3 separate regions of the Homo sapiens genome follow, and all the other regions are linked to region 3. The links come from fine-mapping of genetic effects on gene expression. A gene starts in region 3. Each other region holds a variant in brackets. All regions are shown on one strand. Distances are between the middles of the regions.

The links. PIP is the estimated chance that this variant, and not a neighbour inherited with it, causes the effect.
Region 1: its variant is the best candidate, but not a certain one, in a credible set for the expression of SLITRK4 in esophagus mucosa (GTEx, PIP 0.57).
Region 2: its variant is the best candidate, but not a certain one, in a credible set for the expression of SLITRK4 in whole blood (TOPMed, PIP 0.76).

The regions. Positions count from the first base shown.
Region 1 is chrX:144,375,582-144,380,809 of GRCh38, reverse strand. No RefSeq gene overlaps it. Among named protein-coding and RNA genes, the nearest start is that of SPANXN2, 660 kb to the right of the region's middle. The variant G/T (reference allele first, on the strand shown) is at 2,513.
Region 2 is chrX:143,577,413-143,582,640 of GRCh38, reverse strand. No RefSeq gene overlaps it. Among named protein-coding and RNA genes, the nearest start is that of SLITRK4, 56 kb to the left of the region's middle. The variant G/A (reference allele first, on the strand shown) is at 3,128.
Region 3 is chrX:143,633,084-143,638,311 of GRCh38, reverse strand. It overlaps SLITRK4 (SLIT and NTRK like family member 4), which reads left to right and starts at 2,211. Exons shown (of 2, transcript NM_001184749.3): 1 at 2,211-2,577.

The sequences.
Region 1 (5,228 bases), 740 kb before region 3:
TTTTTGACTTCTGTGTACCCACAGGCCCAATACCAAGTGTAAGCTGCCAAAGCTTGGGCCTTGCACCCTCGGAAGCAACGGCCTGAGCTCTACATTGGCCCCTTTTAGCTATGGCTGGGACACAGGGCACCAAGTCCCGAGACTGCACAAAGCAGCAAGGCCATGGGCTCAGCCCTCGAAACCATTTTTTCCTTCTATACCTCCTAGCTTGTGATTAGAGGGATGGCCTGGAAGACCTCTGAGTGCCCTGGAGATATTTTCCCCATTGTCTTGGCAATTAATGCTTGGCTCCTAGTTACTTATGCAAATTTCTGTAGCTCTCTTGAATTTGTCCTCAGATAATGGGTTTTTCTTTTCTATTGCATTGTCAGGTTGCCAATTTTCTAAACTTTTATGCTCTGCTTCCCTTCTAAACATAAGTTTCAATTCCAAACCACATCTTCGTGAATACATAAAACCGAATGCTTATAACAGTACCCAAGTCACCTCTTCAATGCTATGCTGCTTAGAAAATTCTTCTGACAGATGCCATAAATTATTTCTTTCAAGTTCAAATTTCCATAAATATCTGGAGCAGGGGCAAAATGCCCCCAGTCTCTTTGCTAAAACATAGCAAGAGTCATCTTTGCTCCAGTTCCCAAAAAGTTCCTCATCTCCATCCAAGACCACCTCAGCCTGGACTTTATTGTCCATATCACTATCAGCATTTTGGCCAAAGCCATTCAACAAGTCTTTAGGAAGTTCCAAACTTTCCTACATTTTCCTGCCCTCTTCTGAGCCCTCCAAACTGTTCCAACCTCTGCCTGTTACCCAGTTCCAAAGTCACTTCCAGCAGCATCCCACTTTACCCATACCAATTTACTGTATTAGTCTGTTTTCGCACTGCTAATAAAGACGCAGCCAAAACTGGGTAATTTATAAAGGAAAGAGCTTTAATTGACCCACTGTTACGCATGACTGGGGAGGCCTCACAATCATGGTGGATGGCACATAAGGAGCAAAGTCATGTCTTACATGGAGGCAGGCAAGAGAGCTTGTGCAGGGGAACTCCCATTTATAAAACCATCAGATCTTGTGAGACTTAATTACTACCATGAGTACAGTATGGGGGAAACTGCCCCCATGATTCAATTATCTCCACCTGGCCCCACTGTTGCCATGTCAGAATTATTGCAATTTAAGGTGTGGTTGGGCAGGGGTACATCCAAACCATATTAGTAACTTATTAAAAAACTGAGTAGTCTTATTATGAATTGTTTTTTCAAAACATGGAGTTTGGCCATGTTGAATTTGTGCTGCCTCCATTGCTCCTGTGAACACCTGTGCAGAGACAGGAACTCCAGCATCTGCTAGCACCCTGCTGCAGCCAATGAGTGTGCACTCTGCCACAATGATGCTGCCACTGCTGCTGGCGTGTGTGAACAAGAACAAAGGCAGGCACAAAGGCCACCAGAACTGCCCCCGCCAATGTCTCCACCCAGTGCCAACACTGCAGCCAAAGTGAAACTAGACAAAGAAAACAATGGAACCTCCCCTATCCTGGGCTGTCACCCTTGCCTGCATAAATATTCACAGAGGATGCACACAGATCTGCATTTGCCAGTGACCTGCTCCAGTACTAACACCACCACAAGCACACAGAACGCACAGTCACCAATAGGAGTCCCCACTGCCTCCCCCCAGCTGTGTTGCCTCCATTGCTGTTTTGAACACCTGCACAGAGGCAGGAACCCCAGCATCTGCTCAACTCTGCTGCAGCCAATGAGCATGCACCCTGCCACTGTGAGGCTGTCACTGCTGCTGGCATGTGTGAACAAGGACCAATCCTGCTACCACCACCCTACAAAATTCTTTGCCCAGCACAACCCATCAGAGTGCTTGACCAGAAGTCTGACAGCTCTTCAGCATCCCCATCACAGTGGGTTTCTAAACTCAGGGAGCCAGAAAAAAAAATTGGAGCCCAATACAAGTTTCCAGAGTCAGAGCATGCAGCACACGGTTATGTCCTGAGCCATAGCTGCCTAAAATCTTCCAGAAATGAAGCCAGTCAACTGAATACACCTTATATCACAATAAAATTCTCAAGGTCATAAAATGGACATAACATATTCAAAGGACAGCAACTTCACAGATTTAAGGAACATCAACCTACAGAGATGAGAGAGAACCAGCATAAGAACTCTGAAAACTCAAAAAGCCAGCATTACTTCTTTCCTCCCAATGACAGCACCACTTCTCCAGAAAGGGTTCTGAAGCAGGCTGAGATGGCTGAAATGACAGAAATAGAAATCCGAATATGGATAAAAATGAAGAACACTATTCCTATTCAACATAGTATTGGAAGTCTTGCACAGAGTAATCAGGTAAAAGAAAAAAAAATTAATGGCATCTGAATAGGAAGCTACTAAGTCACACTATATCCCTTTCCAGACAACATTATTCTATATATAGAAAATCCCATAGTCTTGGCCCAAAATCTCCTTCCGCTGATAACTTAAGCTAAGTCTCAGGG[G/T]AGAAAATCAACCTATAAAAATGACTAGCACTCCTATACGCCAACAACAGTCAAGCTGAGATCCAAATCAGGAAAACAATTCCATTCACAACTGCCATAAAAACAAAAAATACCCAGGAATACAGCTAACCAGGAAGGTGAAAGATCTCTACAATCAGAACTACAAACCATTGCTCAAAGAAATCAGAGATGCCACAAACAAATTAAAAAACATTCCATGCTCGTGGATAGGAAGAATCAATATTGTAATAATGGCCATACTTCCCAAAGCAATTTATAGATTCAATGCCATTCTTATTAAACTACAATTGAGATTCTTCACAGTACTAGAAAAAGAAATTAAATTCATATGGAACCAAAAAAGAGTCCAAATAGTGAAGGCAATTCTAAGCAAAAAGAATAAAGCTGGAGACAGTGCACTACCTGACTTCACACTATATTCCAGGACTACAGTAACCAAAAGAGCATGATACTGCTACAAAAACAGACGCATAGAACAATGTAACCGAACAGAGAGCCCAGATATAAGGCTGCATACCTACAACCATCTGATCTTCTACAAAGCTGACAAAAACAAGCAATGGGGAAATGACACTCTATTAAATAAATGGTGCTAGGATAACTGGTTAGCCATATGCAGAAGATTGAAACTGGACCACTTCCTTACACTATATACAAAAATCAACCCACATTGGATCAAAGACTTAAACGTAAAACACAAAACTATAAGAACCCTGAAGACAACTTAAGCAATACCATTCTGGACATAGGAACAGGCAAAGATTTCATGACAAAGATAACAAAAGCAATCCAACAAAAGCAAAAATTAACAAATGGGATTTAATTAAACTAAAGAGCTTCTGCACAACAAAAGAAACTATCAAAAGAATAAACAGACAACCCATAGAATGGGAAATTTTTCTTTCAAACTATGCATCTGACAAAGGTCTAATATTCAGCATCTGTAAGGAACTTAAACAAATTTATAAGAGAAAGGACAAGCAACCCCCGATATGATTTGGCTCCGTGTCCCCACCCAAATCTCATCTCAAATTATAATCCCTATGTCAAGGGAGGGACCTGGTGGGATGTGATTGGATAATGGGGTTGGTTTCTGCCATGCTGTTTTCATGATAGTGAGTGAGTTCTCACAAGATCTGATGGTTTAAAAGTGGCACTTCCCCCTTAGTGCTCTCTCTCTCCTGACACCATGTAAGATGTGCCTGGCTTCCCCTTTGCCTTCCACCTGATTGGAAGTTTCCTGAGGCCTCCCAAGCCCTCTGGAACTGCATGTGAATTAAAACTTTTTTCTTCATAAATTACCCAGGCTCTGGTCATTGTTTATAGCAGTGTAAAAAGCAACTAATACAACCCTCTTAAAAAGTGGGCAGTGGACATAAACAAATATTTTTCAAAACAAGACATATATGTGGCCAACGAACATCTTAAGAAAAAGCTCAACATCGCTGATCATTAGAGAAACGCAAAGAAAAACCACGATGAGATACCATCTCAAACCAGTCAAAATGGCTATTACTGAAAAGTCAAACAATGACAGGTGCTAGCATGGTTGTGGAGAAAAAGGACCACTTAAACACTGTTGCTAGTAGTGTAAATTAGTAAAACCATTGTGAAAAGTAGTGTGGCAATTCCTCAAAACCTAAAAACAGAACTACTTTTTGACCCAGGAATCCCATTACTGGGTATTTAGCCAAAGGAATATAAATTGTTCAATTATAAAGACACATGCATGCGTATGTTCATTGCAGCACTATTTGCAATGGCAAAGACATAAAAGAAACCTAAATGCTCATCAGTGGGGACTGAATAAAGAAAATGTGATACATATACACCATGGAATACTATGTAGTCACAAAAGAAGAATAAGATCATGTCCTTTGCAGGAACATGGATTGAGCTGCAGGCCATTATCCCTAGCAAACTGACACAGGAACAGAAAACAAAGTGCCACATGTTCTCACTTATAAGTTGGAGCTAAATAATGAGAACACATGGACACACAGAGGTAATAACTGACACTGTGGCCTAACGCAGGATGGGGGTGAGAGGAGGGAGGTGATCAGGAAAAATAACTAATGGCTACTAGGCTTCATACCTCGGTGATGAAATAGTCTGTACAATAAAGCCCCATGACATGACTTTACCTATAAAACAAACCTGCACTCAAACCCTTAAACTTACAATGAAAATTAAAAAAGTAAAACAATAGAAATATAATAAAATGATACTGACAAATGTCATGTAGAAGAGGGCCATATAAAAATGTCTTCACATTTTAATATTATTCTGTAACTACTATAAGGCTTATTTACTAACTTTTGGCTCTTGCCTGTGTTCCAGAGCATTGAACTTGTTAGATAAGGGGTTTCTAGGGAAGTAAAGTGCTCTTATGCTTGTTATGAGCTGTATCACCCTCTGCAATTTTCTTTTTTGTTTTTTTTTTTAGACGGAGTTTTGCTCTTTTTGCCCAGGCTGGAGCGCGATGGCGCCATCTTGGCTCACCGCAACCTCCACCTCCGGGGTTCAAGCGATTCTCCTGCCTCAGCCTCCCGAGTAGCTGGGATTACAGGCATGTGCCACCATGCCTGGCTAATTTTGCTGCAATTTTCAAAATTCCATTTTTGTTTGCCTGAATAAATTAAAAAACCCTCAAATCAACTGATTTCCTATAGGAAGGGGATAGTACTATGATCTG
Region 2 (5,228 bases), 56 kb after region 3:
ACCTTAAATGATTAGGCACCTACTTACTTCTCTAGCACTATATTTTATTAGTTTTTAAGTCCAGCTCACATATGACTGTCTTTAAGCATCTTCCCAGATCTTCTTCTATTCCATTTACACCACTGGCACAACCTGATCACACTACATTAGAATGAGTAGTGTGCCCAGGAGACTGGCAGTCTTTTCAACTGGAGTGTCAGCTCTAGATACTCACTATGCAATTTCAAATACCTCCTCTGCTGAAATTGTGTTCTCTCCCTTCCCTGACCTCATTCTGTGTTTTCCCTCCTTTCTCTTAACACCTTTTATTCCAGCTAGTGCTGTACTGCTCTCCCCACTACAGACTGAAAGCTCCTGGAGGGCAGGACTGTGTGCCTCCTGCCATAGTCAGGTTTCCAACCTGTGTACCACTGGTCCTGGTGGTTTGCTCAGAGTAGTAGGTACTCAGTCAGTACTTGTCAAATGGGCAGATTGTGCCTATAAATATTTGTACTCATATTGCATTTCTGTCTTTTCCTTTTGATGATATAGTTTCATCATTTACAAGATGCTGTTATGATATTTATGTCTATTAGCCTTTCTGCTAAATAATTGCTTGGCGCTCCCTGTTTTTCTAAATTTGGTAAAAATATCATAAAAAAGCATTTGGTAAATTTCTCACAGAAAGCCAAACACTTTTATGATGTGAGAGACTTGATTTGTTGTATTTATATCAAGTCAATATTGGTTTAATCTTAAATTCACCATTCACCATCTTTTTTGTTTCTCGTTATCAAAACTCATTTTTTATGACTAATTTAATCATTGACTGAACTCACTCAACAGTTGCCCATAGTTACTAAAAGATACAAAATGATACTGTTTATAAGCATTTAGGTCAAAAATGTTCAAAAGAAAAATCAACTAAACTGATACTTTTAATTAGTATTTTGAGGGTTGAGGATTTTTAAAAATTTGTTTTTCACTGAAACTGCTTTGGTAAAAATCAGTACAAAAACAATTGATTTTTTAATTGTCTGGTTTGAAGAGACATGTTGGAGTAACAGAAACAGTCACAACCAAATGCAGCTTCTTCTGGTGGTACACTTCGTTCCATGATGTGGATCAGTTCTAAATATCATTCCAACTATTCTTAGATTCAAGTTATGATACTGTTTTGTTCTTTATATTTGGCTCTGTTTGTAACTCAACAAGTGTCTTGGGTAAGTCCCATGAGTAATAGAAACTGAGAGTAAGCTAGATCAGAAATACTGGATATGGACGATCATTATAAAATGCACATGTTGACTTCTCAAATTATGTCAAGTGACAAGGCTCTTTTTGACACATTAAAGTGATCTGCTCTCTTCAATACTTAATTTATTACTAATGAGGGACTGCAATTGCTTCAAATTAAGTAGCCTACACTTATCATAAGATCTGGCACATTTCTACTTCTGTTTTTAAAAGAATATTTGAAATTAAAAATGTAGAAAATTAGATGCATAAAAATGCATTGTCTAATCAATAACCATAATCATTACCAGCTGTCAAAATGTATCTTAAAATGTTATGAGCTAAATTATGCTGTAAAGACATGCATAATTTTTTATAGAGATTTAGCTGTATTTGTTGACCCATTGATCTCACTCCAGTACAGCATGAACCAAGGAAATAAAAGGGGAACAGAACATAATGGAAGAAAGAACACTTATCCAGGAGGCAAGAAACTCAGCTTAACCATTTATTGGCTGTCTGAATTTGGGCAAGTCACTCTCCACTGTATGTTTCCATTTTCCCACCTGTAACATGAGATGGTTGGACCTGAGCAAAGGTTTCTGACTGCCTGGTAGCCCATGCTGATTCCATGATTCAGCCCATGCTGAAAATTCAATTCAGTTCCGTTCAAGTCAGTTCAATCCAACAATCTTGAGGGACAGCTATTGAAGCAGAAGTTAAAAAGAGAAAAACAAGTTTTCCTATACTTGGCTGACTCACTCCAAGGCCAGCAATAGGCAGGGCCCTGGCAAAGTCTCAATAACACTATCTGGAAAGCCAGAGCCCAAAGGAATGAGCTCCGGAGACTCTCCCAACAAACCCCTCCCCCTCCCTGGAGCAAGGATAAGAAAAACAAATTCCTTTACTATCTCCTCTTCCCCCTTACCATTACTCAGTGTCTCAAGTTTTGTAAGTTCCTGTTTTCCCTTCCATGCAGCTGTAAGGTCACAAGCTATGCTTAGGTTACAAAACCTGTCACAGTTTGATTAACTGCCTTTGTTCTGCTTCTGTAAGCCTGCCTGCCCGCCTCACAGGTTTTGTGCCCTCAGTTTCCTGCCACTGCATTAAAACTAGCCAATTCCCTTTCAGAAGTGTATATAAAAGTCAAGCCCTGTGTTTGTTCAGGGCTCAGCCTTTGGATGTGAATCTGCTGTGCCAGTAGCCACCTAAATAAAATCCTCCTGTTCCACCCATTGGTCTCTCTGGTCTTCTGATTCCCACAACACTACAGCACCATATTATAACATAATACTGCCAAATGTAATATAATATAATATGAACATGATAAAAGTTTTTAAAATCAGATAAGAATTTGACTCAACTTACAATCTATATGATCATAAAGAAGCCAATTCAAGGGAGGTAGAGGAATATGGTGGAATAGAAAGCTTCACTGATAGTTCCCCCAGCAAGGACATCAGATTAACAGCTATCTACTCAGAAAACACACCTTTATAAGAACCAAAAATAAGGTGAGCACTCAGTACCTGGTTTTAGCTTCATATCACTGAAAGAGGCACCAAAAAGGTAGAAAAAACAGCCTTGAATTGCTGATGCCACCCCTCCTCAATCTCTGGCAGTGGAATCCTGGTACAGAGAGTATCTCTGGGCACTGGGGGAGGGAGAACACAGCAATTGTGAAGCATTGAACTCAGTGCTGCTCTGTTAGAGCAGAAAAGAAAAACCAGACCAAACTCAGCTGATGCCTGCCCACAGAGGGAGCATTCAAATCAGCCTTAGCCAGAGGGGAATTTCCAATCCCAGTGGTTCAAACTTGAGTGCCTGCAAACCTTGCCACCCAGGGCCAAAGTGCTCTTAGTCTCTAACTAAACTTGAAAGGCATTCTAGCCCATAAGCACTGCAACTCTTA[G/A]GTGAGTTCAAGGGCTTAACTAGGCCTAGAGATAATGGATTAGAAGGCCACATGACATACTGTGACACCAGCTTTGGCAGGCAAAATGTGCTGGCATCACCCCTCCCCTAATCCCAGGCTGCACAGCTCACAGCTCCAAAAAAGACCCTTTTCTTCCTCTTGAGGAGAGTAGAGAGAAGAGTGGGGAGGATCGTTTCTTGCACCTGAAATACCAGCTTAGCCACAGCAGGATATGGCACCAGTCAGAGTCAAGAGGCTCCCATTCCAGGCCCTATCAGCCAGATGATATTTATAGATATACCCTGGGCCAGAAGAGAACCTATTTGAAGAAAGGGATCCAGTCCTGCTAGCATGGGCTCTGAATAACCAGCAGTAATATCCAGGTGCTATGCTACATCAAGGGTTTTGGTGAGCCTCTGAGACTTGCTGGCTTCAAGTACCAACATCACCACAGGGGTGTAGAGCAGCAAGTCAAGACTGTTTACTCTTGAATGACATTTCTGGACCTGCCCTGTGACAGAGGGGAGTGCACTGCCCTGAAGGATGAGTCCCAGGACAGACAGCACTCACCACAAGCTGACTTAAGAGACCTTGAGACTTAAGGGAAAATCAGTGGTAGTCTGGCAGTACTCCTTGTGGCCAGGGGTGGCTCCTCTGCCTTTGGAAAAGGGAGGGAAGAGTGGGAAGGACCAAAGCAAATATGGACAAATGGGATCACGTCAAGTTAAAAAGCTTCTGCACAAAAGTTACAATCAACAAAGTGAAGAGACAACCCACAGAATGGAAGAAAATATTGGCAACTACCCTTCTGACAAGGAATTAATAACGAGAATATATAAGGAGATTAAACAGCACTATAGAAAAAAATCTAATAATCTGATCAAAAGATGGACAAAATATTTGAATAGATATTTCTCAAAAGAAGTCATACAAATGGCAAACAGACATATGAAAATGTGCTCAACATTAGCATCAGAGAAATGCAAATATAAACTACAATGAGATATCATTTCACCCCAAATGTCTTGGATATGGCTTATATCCATAAAACAGGCAATAATAAATGCTAGCAAGTATGTGGAGAAAAGGGAACTCTTGGACACTGTAGGTGGTAATGTAAATTAGTATAACAACTATGAAGAACGTTTTGTACGTTTCTAAACCAAGTGATTTGAGAATCACAATGACCAAGAGAGAAATTTCAACTTGGAGACTCAGAGGAAGACACATATATTCTTTCAGTGATCATTTACTGAACTGCATTGTGCTAAGCAGGGGTAAAGTGATGGATAAGAAGAAACACTTGCCTTTCTTCACAAAACCAATGAAGATATTTTGAAACGTTTTTATTCATTGACTCCCGTTAAAAAGCTGATGAAAAGAAAAGATTCTATCCCTAAAAATATGGGCACATGATTTTGCATTTAAGTGTAAAGAGTTCAAGAACTCTTTGGAAATTTATTCTTACATCCCCCAGGCACATGGACTCCAGATTCAAACCTCCTAATTTAGTTGGGGGTTTTATTTAAAAAGGTAGCATTTGAATAAAGTCCTGAAAAATGGTTCGAATTTCAGATGGGAGCAAAGAACAGTGTTCTTGGACTTTGAACCTGTGATGGTTATTATTAAGTGTCAACTTGATTGTATTAAAGGATGCAAAGTATTGTTCCTGGGTGTGTCTGTGAGGGTGGTGCCAAAGGAGATTAACATTTGAGTCAGTGAACTGCTAGAGGTGGACCCACCCTCAATCTGGGTGGGCACCTTCTAATCAGTTGCCAACATGGCTAGGATAAAAGCAACAATACGTGGAAAGACTAGACTAGCTACGTCTTCTGGCCTCCATCTTTCTCCTGTGCTGGATGCTTCCTGCCCTCGAACATTGGACTTCCAAGTTCTTCAACTTTTGGACTCTTGGACCTATACCAGTGGTTTGCCAGGGGCTCTCGGGCCTTTGGCCACAGACTGAATGCTGCACTGTCGGCTTCCCTACTTTTGAGGTTTGGAACTCAGACTGGCTTCCTTGCTCCTCAGCTTGCAGACTACCTATTGTGGGACTTCACCTTACGATCGCGTGAGTCAATATTCCTTAATAAACTCCCTT
Region 3 (5,228 bases):
GGATGTCACCTGTAGTTCTAGGGGACGGAAAAGGGACTGTGGGACTAAAGGATTGGGTTAATTACTTTGAAAGCAAAATAAGCATAAAACATGGAAGTTGTTACTTCTGTTTTATTTTATGAGTGTCCACTTTATCTTTTTAAGTAGCAAAACATTTTATTTTAAAGCATTCATTTAAAAAAGTTGAATATTAATCACAGATAAGTTCTTAGGAATATTATGAATTGTAATTTATCGATGATCTAGCTACAGTGGCTTTCAGATTTGTCTCCATATCCATATGAAAAATAACATTTCACAGTTATTGCAGTTAAATATAGCCAAGTCTCAGAACAGTTTCTAAAGTTGAATAAAGATAGGCATTTAAATCATCTGATATTTACTGTCCAAATCTGGCCTTTTCAGTTATCACATTACTTAGAATTTTCAGGTAAACTTTTTTTGCTCATTCTATTGACTCTTGTTAACATTTGTAGTAAAAGACAAACATTTCACCTATCTGGATAAAATATATTCAGCTTCCTGAATTGTTAGCATTTAGAATAAATGCCAACTTGTTTTGATACCCATTACTACTTTCAAACTGCATTACACAATAAAATGCAAATGTGAGTTATTAATTAGCAGGATCTGTTTTGTCCAAGTGTGCAAGAGTAGAGGGATTTTTCAACATTCTGCAGCTGTTACCTATGAAGGAAACATCATTCACTTTGCTAAAAGGAGCTGCACAATTACATACGCTGTTATAGACAAATATTTTAGTGTTTCCTTAATGCTATTTCATAATGGATTTCACATTGAATAAGATAAATTTTACCAATGCTGCCCAATTTCTGTCTCTAGGTTGTTTGTAAAAGAGAGGATGATTACAGTTTTCAAGGCAATGTGGAGTGAAGGTAGAGAAAGAGTTCTTCATGAACGACACAATATTTAGCAAGGTCATAAAGAAATATGCCCATACACGCATATCTATTTAAGTATTCATTTACATATTGTACGTGCATCTCTGTATACATGTTGTGCCCGGTGAACATTTGTGTGAATATAACCTGACGGAAGTCCCATAAAATGACAAAAAATGAAAAACAATGAAACATGTATATGAATGACTACTATAGATGATACAGAAGGTAGACCATTATTCACAAATAATGTAATAAATCCTTTGCCCATCAGATGTTTCTACCTAGATTTGGGGCCTTTAAACATCAACCAATTATGGTAAATGTTTAACTGTAGGAGTTCAGGCAGACAGCCAAATTCTGGTTTCAAAGCTGTTGCTAGTTTTAGCTTAAAGATTTTTTTTTTCATTTTTAAGCAAGAACATTTCTGGATACCGGTTGTGCTCTATTGTGGCTAGAGCCGCTGGGATTTGAATAAGTAAATTGGGCAACACACTGGTCCTGAAGAAATGGGCCTGGCAGTATTACCTGAATGTGGCAAATAATAGGCTACCAAGAGTCCTAGGGAAATACTTCCCATTTATAACTTAGCTCTACTTACCTAAAGCTAGTTTATTCCCACAGACACGAAGAGAGAGAGAGTTGTTTTTCTTAGCCAAGCTCCTACAAAAAACAGCAAGGTTGGGGGATGGGAGCACATCCAATGTTTATGCCTTTTGTTTAGGAAAGCCAGGTATCTGAAATACATACATGATAGCCAACTCCTCTCTGCTCCCCTCCCCCAGGTTTATTTATTTTCTTAACAAGCTTATTAACGAAATTATCAATTTGCATGAAACTGGTTTGAACATTGGCCCTTCCTCAGAATATTTCTTATCTCTTGTGGAAGCACTAACAAAAAGGGTAGAAGAAGGGGCCTAGACAATCCACACGTTGGATTTGCAGCCACTGGATATTTCAGATTCAGCTGCTAAAGCCTCTTTGGTATACACAATGAGGGGCGACTGAAGTGACTTTTCTTAGTCCATTTCCTCTCCTTCTCCCCGTCTCCCGAAGGTACTCCGTGGGTCCCTTCCCTTTCTCTCTTCACAGTCCCTCCTGAGCAGTCCCAAAGCTTCAAACCTTGTTCTCCAACCCCCTTTCCCTAATGTCTCCCAACTACCACCCCCTTCCCCAGTCAAACTCCCCTCCCGGTCACCACCAAAGCCCGGAGAAGTGGAATGCACACAATGCCTCCCTTATAGGGCTTGAGCTGGGAACTGGGCATGCTCAGTAGCCAAAGTAGTTTTTTTTTTTTTTTTTCTTTTGGTCGCAAGTGCGGCATCTCTCCCAGTCCCACGCCTCTCTTTCCTCAACCCCTATCCCCTATCCCCTATCCCCACCCCCAGCTCCAAGATCATCCGGCTTAACCCATTCTGCACCAAAGGCCCACGGAGTTCTAAGGTGCGGATAATTAACCCGTCTCCTTCTAACCCGGCTAAATAGTCTCACTTTAGGCTAAAGCCTCACACTTTCGCCTTAAAGCCCCTGGCCCCTTACGCGCAGACAGGTAGGGGGAGTGCGAATACTACTGGATCCTAGGAAATTGGTTCCCAAGAAGGCTCCTTCCAGGATCGACCGCCACGGAGAAGTATTCCAGGAGCCCTCCGTTCTGCGGGGTGACAATTAGCCAAAGGTACCGTACCCGTGATACAAAATCCAAGTATGATTGTTGCATTTGAATGTCATTGTTGTTGACTCATTCCCCTCCATCCTGTAATTATTCAATTCCGCGTAGACTCGACGACCCTATCGATCTCCCTCGGCCCCCCTCCCCCAGGCTCTCCAGTGTTTCTTTGGCTTTTCCTGGCTTCTTGGTTGCTCTCTCAAAGGAATGCCCCGTGTGTGTGTGTGTGTGTGTGTGTGTGTGTGTGTGTGTGTGTGTGTGTTCCTTCGTTATTAGGGGACTGGAAGAGAAGAAAAGGGCTCGAGTGTGTGTGTATGTGGTGGGGGGGATGGAGGCGAGTGCGCCCTTGTTAGAGGACTGGGGTCTCCACGCCTGAGGAAAGGGGTCGCTCCTCCCTAGGGAATGTTTTAGGCAAAAAGAGGGGGCGGATGCCGGGAGGAAAGCGCGCTGTCTTTCTGGGTGTGTGGGTAGAAGAGGAATCAAATGGGCATGTCTGGATGGGGGACGGGGGTAGGAGCTCAGGAATGTGAGGGGGTCAAAGTGGTCGAGTGTCGGGAGGAAGGACTGCTTGTGTGCGGGGTGGGGGGGGGTGGTGGAGAGCGGGGGCGGGGATTCAGCGCGTGTATGTAAAGGTGCAGCCCGTGTGCTAGGCGCTGGGTGCGCGCGCGGTGTCTGCTCGGGTGCGCGCGCGCGCCGCTGCCCGCCTGCCCGCCGGCCCGCCTGCTCGCCTGCTGGGGCTGCTCCGTGGGTTTGACGGGCGAGCGGGCGCGGAGGAGCTCTGTCCGGAATCACATAGATACCATCGTGGAAACAGCAGCGCAGGTCACGGCGCCGCGGGCCCTGCACCAGACGCTGGGCTCTAGAGGTGGGTGAATTTTCAGCGGGGGCTGCACAAGCTGCACCGACACGCGTGCTGCCTCTTCCCCGCTCAGCTCAGTAGCGCGTGTGCGTGCGTGTGTGTGTGTGAGAGAGAGACAGAGAGAGAGAGAGAGATCTCGCGCGCGCGCACGCGAGCCGAGGGGGCAGGTAGCTTATTATTTTTAGTTTGGGTCCTGTTGGTTTGGGGCCGGTTGAGTGGCCAAAGTGGCCGAGGTGGCTAATCCTGCCCTCCACCTCCCACTTGCCTGCCTACGACGCGGTCTCATGCCGCTGAGGACCGGAAAGGATCCGGGTGTCCTTGGCATCGCTGCCCGCCCCCCCCCCCACCATACCCCAAGCGGCCAGGGCGGCGGGGCAAGTTGTACAGGTCTCGGGTGGCTCCGGCTGTCGGGCCGCTGGGCTGGGTTGGGCTTTATTTTTGCACCCCACTCGCAGCCACTTTCCGCAGACGTGGATCTGAGGCTCGGGGCAGTGGCCCGCGGGTTGGTCGGAGATTGCTAGCGCTCGGCAAGACTAGGAATACCAGAGGAAGAGCCGGTGGGTAACTCTAAAAGCTCTGCAAAGCCAGGCGAGCGCTGCCAGCGCGACTTTGCAAGGGGCCTAAATGTTGAGCTGATTTCTGGCATGGTGAGAGCAGGATTTTTGTAGCTGGCCAGGGAGGGAGAACAGGCAAGGGGGAGCCTGGGCCGCCGCTCGCAGCCACAAAACCACAGGGTCACTCTGCCCGTGGCAAGCAGGTCAGTGACTCCCTAGTGCCAACGTCTTCGAGGCGGCCTGATCTGGCCTCTCTTCCTCCTCACCCACCGCACGCCTGGGTCTAGAGAGGTCCACTGAAACTCCGGCAGCTGCCCCTTGTGGGACGGGAGCGCGCGGAGAAATGTGTGAGCGGCGGGACTGAAGGCCCCCGCGACATCCCGCGCGGTACCCCGCCTCCGCTACACGGACCGCCAGGCTGCTGCTTGGGCCCCTGACGCGGAGGGGGCTGAGCGGCCGGCTCCGGGAACAGGGATGCGGCAAAACATTGCGGTACGCGCTAGCAGCCCCTCCAGCCTCCTCGCCGCCCGCCCGAGGTAGCGCACCCGGGCGGCAATGGCCGGGTCTCTCCGCGAACCTCTTCCACCTCCATCCGAGCCTTAGGCGGGCCAGCGGGGTTTCCCGAGGGAGCTCTCGGGGAGCCACCTCGGCCCACCGCCCTGAAGCCCATCAGTGTTCTGCCCCCCTCAGGCCGCTTCTCTCCTCCCAGTCGCGGAGTGCCAGGCGCTGCACTCCGGTGGATGCAGGATTTGTTTTTGGTCGGGCTAGGTTTGTTCAGTCCTGGCTGGTCGTGAGAGCCAAGGGTCTTTCAGGGCACCGAGAGGAAGACGGACAGCTCCCAGCAGCCACAGAGAAGGCTCTTGGTACCCAGCTGGTACTTTGTGGGCTTTTTCTTTTCTTTTTTGCGTTTTTCCCTTGATGTTTAAATGTGCATGTTTCAGTGGTACCACCGGAGTGTGAGGCTTTATTCGCATACATTCAGTGCTCCCTTTACCCTCTTTGTAGCTCCCTTCTCCGAGTTCTTTTTCTTCCTTTCTCCACATTTCCATGGTCTCTTGCCCTTTCAGTACCTCTTTTCCTCTCTCCTTGGTGGACCAACTGGACTCTTTCTCTCTCTTGCCTGCCCCTCCAGCTGCTTGTGGCTTCCTCTGTTTCACAAGAGCTGCATTTGGGAACTTCCTGGCTCTTACTAGTGCCTTTTCCCCCCCTTGCTACTTAAAGTAGCAATCACCAGGAGGAGGGCAGCT